Linked DNA regions of Homo sapiens. The protein of the gene in region 2 interacts with the protein of the main gene of each other region in a pairwise test. Each region holds a gene or a part of one and is shown on either strand. Other genes may lie near its edges.

Region 1 (4,709 bases), on a different chromosome or scaffold from region 2:
GTGTTAAAGGTGTAACATCCTGCAAATAATCCTGCTCATTTTCTATGCCCAGTGACTGTCTTCTGAGAAGGGTGGTTTAGTGAGGCATTTGTAACTTGTAAAACATCCACAGTACAGCCTGACTGGTTCAGCCTTTCACCCTTAAATGGAAGACGAATTACTGATACTGTACCTTTATTCGTCTTAGAGAATTTAGGATGAAACTTTAACAAAAACAAAATCATAATCCTTCAGCGACATTAACAGGCAATCAAAAAAAAACTATATGAACTCTCTTTAGGGTAGGAGTCTTTTTTCCCTTAGGCACTTTTCCGAACCTTGAAGGACTCAGTGAAAACCCCATCTTAAATAAACAGATTAACTGCACTAAATAATAACTCTAAATTGCTAAATCCAAAAGAGAGTTTTATTAAAAATGGTATAATCATAATAGAACCCTATTTATATATGAAAGTTAAATCAATGACAGGAAAATATGTTAACACTACAAAAGTATAAAATAATATTCTCATAAAAGTAACTTTTTAAAAGTTAAAACTTTGACTCTATTTTTATGTACTTACAGAGTATTTAAAGACCTGTAAGTGTGAAATATTGCATTCTGCCTTAAAAATAAAAATATGTTTACACATCAGAACTCTACACCAAGAATACTAACTAACAAAAGGAATTTATTCTGCTGCTGGGAATGTTATATTTAATTCATAATGCACTTTAAGTATACAGCAAGCCATTTAGTCCTTACAATATTAGTATTGTCCCAAATTAACAAGTGAGGAAACTGAGCAAATTAGGTCACTTGCCCTATGTCACACGCATGAGATGGCAAAGCCCGGGTTTTACTCCAGGCATCTGGTTCCAGAGGCCATGTGTTTCAGAGGGACACATCCCAAAAAAAATGACCTATAATAGCACTAATCTTCCATAGATAAGGAATGCTTAATCTATAAAGATATATATATATATATATATATATATATATATATATACACTATATATGTAAAACAATCTTTTAAAAAAAGTACATGGTAAAAGACTATATGATACCTACACAGACATATACACAAATGAGAACAGTTGGAAGTATTCCAAATTCAGAGGGAACAACGAAAGGAGCTAAAAAAGATAAGTAAATAATAAAAGGAAAAAATGGAATGAAAACTAACTGGCAAAAAATCTTAAAAGTAAAAATTGCAATTTAAACCACATCTTAAAATAAAAATGAGTGAACCAGAATTTTCTCTTGAAACAAAATCGTGTCCTAAGCTCCTATAGATGGATATAGGAGGCATCCAGCAAGCATTTAAATAAAGGAGGAGGGAATGAATGCAGGAAGGATGAAAGCACAATATCCCTTCCAAGAACATATTCCTAAATATGTTCAGAAAATCATCAAAGAGGAAATACTAATTACTGATTACACATTTTTATAATCCACCACTTAATAACTATTTGAGAAAACAAGTATAAATGTAAGTTAGCAGGCTAGTTCTCCAGCAGGCGTTTCTTCGAAAGACCTGAAGCCAGTGTGTTCTTCACTAATAGTTATGCCGTGTCTCTACCACTGATCAGTTTCTTTGAAATTCTCTCACTAATTCCGTCTCAATCTGCTGCTATTTCACATGTGAACTAGTTTTCACATCTCCCAGTTATTACATTGTTCTCTCCTCGTAAGATAACAACTTTAAAAAATTCTCATGATTGCTTTAAGCTCCAGCTACCATCTACCAGCCAACTTTCGCATTTCTCTTGAAAAAGTTTTCTGCTGTATAAATATGCTCCTATTTTCATACTTTTGTACCCCAAGTCTTCTCTTTGTTTGAAAATAAGAAGAACACACATTTCTAAAGTGCCTCGATAGAAAGTAATCTCTTTGAAAGTCGGAGCCGCGTTTGACCCACGCTTAGAACAGGACCTTGAATTTTGACAAACCTGCAAAAATTTACCAACCATTTACATTCTGCCTTATACTCTAGGAATGCAGTAAGTATTTATCCAGGTAAATGTTCAGCTCAATAAGCACCAAAACTACTCAGTATCAAAGCAAGTGAGCACGCTTTTAAACCGTGCACCCTAACAACTCAAATTCACCTCCATTAACTTAAATAATATTCAGCACCGTGCAAATGCATTTTCTCTCCCGTCTCTTCTTCTGAGACTGATTCCTTCAATGGCATTGCCGAAAGTGTATACAGCTCTGTAGAAAGACAAGTGTTTGAGTACTTCATCCAGAGAATCCAGCAGTTTATTTCTTATCTGCAGCATTATTTAACTGCACTAAAAATCACAGAGATATCACATACAGCGCTCAGGTTCCTGGTCACCTTGATTATTTGAGAGGGGCAGAAGTGAGGCTGCTGATCATCTTCATGAAGAGGCAGAGATGGCACCAATGATACCGTGCAGAGTTCTGTGCATTCATAAAAACGCTTCTTTAACAACAATCCACTAATTGCCTTTTTGGTACTAGAAAACTCTAAAGGAGTATGTGAGTTTCCTTTTTAGAAGAAAGGGTATTTCTGTCAGCGAGGCAACTTACAAATATGTAGAAAAAAGGGAAAGCTTAAGGCACCTTGTAAAGATCTTACCATTCATTTCAGTTATTCTGTTGATTATTTTTAAAAGGTGCTAAGGAAGAATGGGCAGAATGAGCTCCAAAGACTCTGTGGAGATTTAAAGTGACTTCCAAGGCATGATAGTTTTCAGTGTAGATGCTTTTTAAAACAGAACCATCAAATGGCAGTAAATATTAATAGAAGGAGGTCTAATCTAGGACTATTTTATCCTAGGTTAACTCCCAAAATTGCCAAGAGAAAAATGATGCTGAAGGCAAGCAAAAGTAAGCTCTATCTTATCTGTGATTAATTTAACACTGAAAATTCCTGCCAGAAATACTTTCTTACGAAATGAATAGCTGGAGGAACGAAAGATCAGACAAATTCAATCATGTATTTGAGAGTCTGAAACTACTGTCATAAGATTTACAGGGGATTCTGGGAATTACTTTGACATATTTGTAAAAACTTAGGGTTCATAACAATGTACTATACAAACCAAGATAGAAAGTCATAGAAAACTGAACAACAGCTAAGAATACAAGGGGGAAAAATCAATAAAATGTCTCTAAAGTAAAAAATTGCCTTGAATCAGTAATTTCAAATATTGTGGAAAGCAACAGGAGGGAAACTACAGCAGCGCCAACAAGAAACCTCTCGGCTTGGAGATCGCATGAAGTGGGGTTAGCTTGAAATCATTTTCCAAGTCTGTACAGTACAAGTTACGTCGTAGGTTTTTGAATGGTAGCCTGCTTGCCCAAGGAAGCTACTGTAGCTTCTAGAGCTGATTCACTTAAAATTAGAGAACAGCTGAATATCGAAATAATCAGTCTTTAAATCTCAGGCCTTCTTGCTGCAGAGAGATAATGGTTGTTACAAAAGGGAAAACTCAGACAATGGAGATTTTGTGTATTTTGCATAATGTCACAAATGGGAATTAGATTCTAAACCTTCCATTTCTGGTTGATTTCACTGTTTTCCAGTTCATATTGTCTACTTGTTTTTTTTTTTAAACATACACTTAAAAAATAAAAACAATCTAAAAAGAACTAATCACCAGATGCGTACTAGCATTAACATCATAATACTATTATTTGTACCTCATAATGATAGATAGGTGGGTAGGTAGGTGGATGGATGGATAGATGGATGGATGGACGGACGATGGGTGGCTGGATGGATGAATGGGTGGTTGGACGTATAGGTGGGTGGATGGGTAGGTAAGTGGACTGATAGGCAGAATCTAAGTTTATCCTTCTAGTATCCCTGTAAGAAAAGTGGCATCTTAAACAGCCGTGGTACATCCGAGACTTGAACCAGATCTCTGAGGCCCAAAGTCCACATTCACTCCGTACTCTATGCATCCTCTCTGAGTGGTAATGCAGAATGAATAAATATAACATTCTATAGAGACCTGAAAGCAACAAGTGCAAGAGAGGCTTCACACAGAGTCAGCCATCCAGCCATAGAGCCATTCTGGGAAACCATTTTTAAAAACATATACTGACAAGTTTACCCTACTGTGCACACAGATTAAATAATAATAATAATAAACTGCTTTTGACAGGTATCTTTCTAAAATGTATCATATCCCTGTCTTCTTAAGTAGAACACACCACTCATGATGACATCTCTCGCTGATGAATCAGGTGATGATAATACATATGTTGCTGCACTGTGCTGCTTTCAGGAGCCGTGAATGGTGAGCAGGGCTGTTCACATCTTCACAATGTAAGCACAAAAGGTTGTGCTTGTTCTGTTTCTCAGATCTGCATTTAATGAGTCTATTTCAACCCATACTGCTTGCTATTATGTGCTATTTCTTTAAATGTGTCAATCTTCCTCCTAATTTCCTGCTCATAATCTACAGGGACCTAGACACCAGTATCACAGTTTTGTGGCACTCTAAGTTAGAACAAATCCGCTGTAGGTGAGAGCCTGTCATTTTTGCTAATTTCCATTTATTGGCTGTACTCTACCTCAGTTAGATTGCCAGATAATTGAATTTTGAATAGGCAAGATAGTATTGTATTCTTGCCTGATATTTTGTAAAATAAGTTTTATTTAAGTATAATGTACATATAGAAAAATGCACGAATCATAGGTCTATAGTGCAATGATTTCCAGCAAACAGAGCACGCCCTTGTTAGGTGT
Region 2 (5,920 bases):
AGGGATTGTGCTGAATCTATTTATACACTTTGAGGTGTATTTCTTTCTCAACAATATTAAGTCTTCCAGTCCATGAACATGGGATATCTTGCCATTTATTTCATGTCTTGCCATTTATTTCAGGCTTCTTTAAACAATGTTTTGTAGATTTCTTTAAACAATGTTTTGTAGATTTCTTTAGACAATGTTTTATAGTTTTCAGAGTATAGGTTTTACACTTCTCCTGTTAAATTTATTTCTAAGAATATTATTATTTTTTTTTTTGTGACAGAGTCTTGCTCTGTCACCCAGGCCTGAGTGTGGTGGTACAATCTTCACTCACTGCAACCTCCACCTCCTGAGCTCACGTGATCCTCCCACCTCAGCCTCCTGAGTAGCTGGGACTACAGGCTCACACTGCCATGCCTCGCTAATTTTTGTATATATATGTATTTTTTGAGATAGAATTTCACTCTTGTTGCCCAGGGTGGAGTGCAATGGCGCAGTCTTGCGGCTCACTGCAACCTCTGCCTCCTGGGTTCAAGCGATTCTACTGCCTCAGCCTCCGAGTAGCTGGGATTACAGGTGCACACCACCATGCCTGGATAATTTTTGTGTTTTTAGTAGAAATGGGGTTTCACCATGTTGGCTAGGCTGGTCTCAAACTCTTGAACCCAGGTGATCCCCTCGCCTTGGCCTCCCAAAGTGCAGAGAGTACAGGCATGAGCCTTTGCACCCAGCCATGTATTTTTTTTAGAGACAGAATTTTGCCATGTTGCCCAACCTTATCTTGAACTCCTGTGCTCTAGCGATCCACCCACCTAAGCCTCCCAAAAGTGCTGGGATTACAGACAGGCATGAGCCACTGCAGCTGGTCAAGTATTGTATTCTTTTTGATGTATTGTAAATTGAATTGTTTTTTAAATTTCATTTTGGATTGTTCACTGCTAGTGTATAGAAATACAATTGATTTTTGTATACTGATTTTGTGTCCTATTGAACTTGTTTATTAGTTCTAATAGTTTTTTAGTAGGTTCCGTAGGATTTTCTGTATGTGAGATCACGTCATCTGCCAATAGAGATAGCCTGACTTCTTCATTTCCAATCCAGATGTCTTTTCCTTCATTTTCTTGCTGGGAGTCAGTTTTAGAGGCTCGTTACAGACTGTCCACAGAGGGCTTGCTCTGCAGAGTTGGCTTGGTACTGCTTGGGTAGAGCTGTTGGGCCCATGGAAAGGGGCTGGCAGACAGGGCTCTGTTTGCTCTGGACATTTGTCTCTTATAATGACATTTCTCTCTTGTTGCTTCACACAGCTAAGGTAGTTTTAAAAACATATCCCTAAAGAATAAGAAAACTTCCATGATCATGCCTGTAATCCCAGCACTTTGGGAGGCTGAGGCAGGAGGATCACTTGAGGCCAAGAGTTCGAGACCAGCCTGGCAACATTGAGAGACCCCTGTTTCTACAAAAAATAAAAAATTAGCTGGGAGTGGAGGTGTGCACCTGCAGTCCTAGCTACTTGGGAGGCTGAGGTGGGAGGATTGCCTGGGCCCAGGAGTTGGAGGCTGCGGTGAGCTATGTTTATGCCACTGCACTCCAGCCTGGGCAACAGAGCAAGACCCTGTCTCTAAAAAACAAACAAACAAACAAACAAACAAACAAACGGAAACAACAAAAAAGAGATGGTTATGTGAAAACATGTTTATCTCAGCAATATGTAAATTACTGCTCTGATTCAGTGCTGTGTTAGATAGCACTTCCCTCTGCCCCAATTTTCTGCTCCTCTAGCACACAGGATGTTTATGTTAAAGGTATATCATATCTATGTATTTTTTCCTTTTTTGATTTCTCCATGGTATTGCAGCAGAAGCACACACGGGAATATGGAAAAATCTTCAAGTCTCACTTTGGTCCTCAGTTTGTAGTATCTATTGCAGACCGCGATATGGTGGCTCAGGTGCTCCGGGCGGAGGGCGCTGCGCCCCAGAGAGCCAACATGGAGTCCTGGCGGGAGTACCGAGACTTGCGGGGGAGAGCCACCGGGCTCATCTCGGCGTGAGTATGTGGGCCCGGGCTGAGCCACGGGCTGGAGGGGGAGCTCAGGGGGAGGCCCCCTCCTCCAAAGCTGAGTTCCTAAAAGCCAGCTCTTAAAAAAGCACAGAACCCCCCCATGGAATGATATCAGACAGTCTCCTTGTGCGATCTCCCAGACATGAGAGCCCTGCTGGGCTTTCTGGCTCCTCCTCCGTGCAGAGTTGTCCCGTCAGGAGCCAGGAGGGGCGACGCTGGCTCCGTGGTGGGCAGAGCGCTTCGGAAGCAGGGCTTTGTGGCTTTGGGAGTCCATTCAGTGATAACCGAGGCAGACAAAACTCACAGCGCCCTTGTCTGTGCACAGGGAAAGGAGGTGGTCACTATTTCAGGAAAATCCCTTTGACGAGGGGCTAAGAACCTCCAGCCTTGGTCGCCACGTGGTGATTTTCCTGTCTCATAGCAGACTGTGATTATTCATTTTGAACCAGCGTCACCAACACCTCTGTGCCTTCCAAGAGATCGTGGCCCGCGGCCAGGCAGGGAGGCCCAGGGCGCCTGCAGATGCCCCGGTCCAAATCCCCATGGGGTGGGACTTCTGTTTGCAGCTCTTTTGATATCTATGTCCTTATACATAAATTGGGGAGAAATACAGCCACCAATTTCTCAAGTAAGATAAATAAGAATCGTGACCAGATGTCACCAGGGTCCCTCAATTTCCGTCCTGGGGGAAATAATTAAACAGCTCCTCCTGGATGTTCAGGCCTAGAGGGGCCCGAATGCTGAGGCAGAATCTCTCTGCTGTCTGCCCCGTTAGCTGCAGGCTCAGGAGCCTGTGTGGGTGCCTGGACCCCTCTTCGGCTGAGATGGAGAGAGGCGGTGCTGGTGACTTCAGCACAGTGGACAGCAAAGGGAAGGGCAGTGCCTAGGCCCAGGCGCCGGGCTGGCTTAGCTTGGGTCCTCCAAAGTCCATCTGGAGGCAAGGCTTTGAGTGCAGGTGGTCTCCTTGAGAACGCGAAAGTGGAGCAGGGTTGGGAGGCAAGCCATGCGGAGGTGTGGAGGTGTGGGTGACGCTCGTGGGCACTTGAGGCTCAGTCCTGCCACGACCCTCTGAGAAACTGCAGAACACTCCTCAGACCTCCAAGGGGTTCCCTCAGCGTCCTGCCTTCACTGGGAGCGGTGTGCTGGGCCTGCTACCTGGGTGCTCTCCGAGTGCAGCCAGGAGCCCCAAGGCCCCACACCCTGGTAACAAGCTGCAGTCCCTCTTTCTTTCCCACACCCTGGTAACAAGCTGCAGTCTTCTTTCTTTCTTTCTTTCTTTCTTTCTTTCTTTCTTTCTTTCTTTCTTTCTTTCTTTCTTTCTTTCTTTCTCTCTCTCTCTCTCTCTCTCTTTCTTTCTTTCTTTCTTTCCTTCTTTCTTTCCTTCCTTCCTTCCTTCCTTTCTTTCTTTCTTTCTTTCTTTCTTTCTTTCTTTCTTTCTTTCTTTTTCTTTCTTTCCTTTCTCTCTTTCTTTTCTTTCTTTCTCTCTCTCTTTCTTTTCTTTCTTTCTCTCTCTCTTTCCTTCCTCCCTCCCCCCTCCCTCCTCCCTCCCTCCCTCCCTCCCTCCTTCCTTCCTTCCTTCCTTTTCTCTCTCTCTCTCTCTCTTTCTTTCTTTTTTTTTTGAGATGGAGTTTCGCTCTGTCGCCTAGGCTGGAGTGCAATGGCGTGATCTTGGCTCACCATGACCTCTGCCTCCCGGGTTCAAGTGATTCTCCTGCCTCAGCCTCCCGAGTAGCTGGAATTACAGGTGCCCACCACCACACCCGGCTAAATTTTTCTATTTTTGGTAGAGATGGGGTTTCACCATGTTGGCCAGGCTGGTCTTGAATTCCTGACTTCAGGTGATCCACCCATCTTGGCCTCCTAAAGTGCTGGGATTACAGGCATGAGCCACCATGCCTGGCCCTCTTTTTCTTTTTTAATATCAGTACTTACTTCATTTATATATACATATGTATGCATATATATATATATTTTTCTTTTGCTAATTAGCAATCTCATTTCTTTATTACAATATTATTTCAAGATTTTTTAAAGGAAGTCGTATTACTTTTACTAAAGATTATTACTTACCACTGGTAGTTTTTTCCTTAAAGTTTGCTTCAAAGGCAAGAGTGTAAGAAGCTCTAACAGGCTCCAGGGCTGCAGTTATTAACTTCTCTCTCCCCAGCAAAAAGTCTTTCCTGTCTTAATTCTACTTTGTTGGGCAGCTCTTGTTGATTCTTTATGGCTGAAATTTTTTCTAGAGGTTCCTTGAATTCTTTCCCAGAATGTCAGTGTAAGTAAGATGATTTGAAACTCACTTGATTCTTCTAGGGAGGGTGAACAGTGGCTCAAGATGAGAAGCGTATTGAGACAAAGAATTCTGAAACCGAAAGATGTGGCCATTTATTCTGGAGAAGTCAACCAAGTTATTGCTGACTTAATTAAAAGAATCTACCTCCTCAGGAGCCAGGCAGAAGATGGAGAAACCGTGACCAATGTCAATGATCTTTTCTTCAAATATTCAATGGAAGGTGAGGTGGAATCAGCAGGTGGGAAGGAGGGAAGAATGGATACTTGCCCCAAACCTGCAGATGTCATCTTGGATCATTCCCTGGGTCCCAGGCAGTGTGCTAAGTCTGGGACATACATGCATGTCACCTCCACGGTGCTAACGTGAACCTGGTGTGAACCACCGTTGACCAATGAGGAAACTGAGACTTTTTTTTTTTTTTTCTGAGATGAAGTCTTGCTCTGTCACCCAGGCTGGAGTGCTATGATGTGGTCTTGGCTCGCTGCAACCTCTGCCTCCCAGGTTCAAGCGATTCTCCTGCCTCAGCCTCCCGAGTAGCTGGGATTACAGGCACCTGCCACCACTCCCGGCTAATTTTTTGTATTTTTAGTAGAGACAGTGTTTCACCATGTTGGCAAGGCTGGTCTCGAACTCCTGACCTCGTGATTCGCCCGCCTTGGCCTCCCAAAGTGCTGGGATTACAGGCATGAGCCACTGCACCTGGCTGAAACTGGACTTAAAAAAGAACTTGCCCAATGCCACACCCCCATCCCTCTTTTTAGAGGCAGAAAGTTAGTTTCAAATTCAGGTCTTTTAAACTCAAGAAGCCATGTTCCTAATTACTAATTTACATGTTCAAAAAAAAAAAACATTTTGTTTGAGCATAATTTTTAAAAAGGAGTGAAGTTGAGAGGGCATCTACTTCAAACTCATTCTAGCTTTTAGTCATATTGAATGAGTGGTACATTCCTGTTCAAATAGCAATACCAAAAAGGCTTCAGTGAAGGTCTCCCTCTTTCCTGAATGCAGCAAAGGTCACTAGTCTCTCATGTATATGTCAAGAGATGTTTTATGCACATACAGAAAAACGCATGTGAATATTCTTTTTATTTTTAAACAATAAAGGGTAGTACACCAAACATACTGTTCTGCACCGTGCTTTCTCTTTACTTAAGAATGCATCTTGGGGCTGGGTGCGGTGGCTCACGCCTGTAATCCCAGCACTTTGGGAGGCCGAGGCGGGTGGATCACCTGAGGTCAGGAGTTTGAGACCAGTCTGGCCAACATGGTGAAACCCTGTCTCTACTAAAAATACAACAATTAACTGGGCCATGGTGGCGGGCACCTGTAATCCCAGAGACTTGGGAGGCTGAGGCAGGAGAATCGCTTGAACTAGAGAGGCGGAGGTTGCAGTGAGCCAAGACCACACAATTGTACTCCAGCATGGGTGACAAGAGTGAAACTCCATCTCAAAAAAAAAAAAAGCATGTTGGTCTAACATGGTGATGTTTGTGTAAAAAAAAAAAAATAGAATGCATCTTGGAGGACTTTCTATCAGCTTTCTCATCTTTTTTAAAAAAAGCTTACCTTCAACTTTCA

Evidence for each region. Proteins that work in one complex are often made in the same cells at the same time.
Region 1: the proteins of CYP27C1 (region 2) and MTNR1A interact in a two-hybrid assay, tested with the Homo sapiens proteins (one large-scale study listed by BioGRID and IntAct).

The regions. Positions count from the first base shown.
Region 1 is NC_000004.12:186,547,859-186,552,567, forward strand, and holds part of MTNR1A (melatonin receptor type 1A), read right to left. Parts: intron 1-4,709.
Region 2 is NC_000002.12:127,202,014-127,207,933, reverse strand, and holds part of CYP27C1 (cytochrome P450 27C1), read left to right. Parts: intron 1-1,843; coding exon 1,844-2,034; intron 2,035-2,166; exon of another isoform or gene 2,167-2,275; intron 2,276-4,362; coding exon 4,363-4,562; intron 4,563-5,920.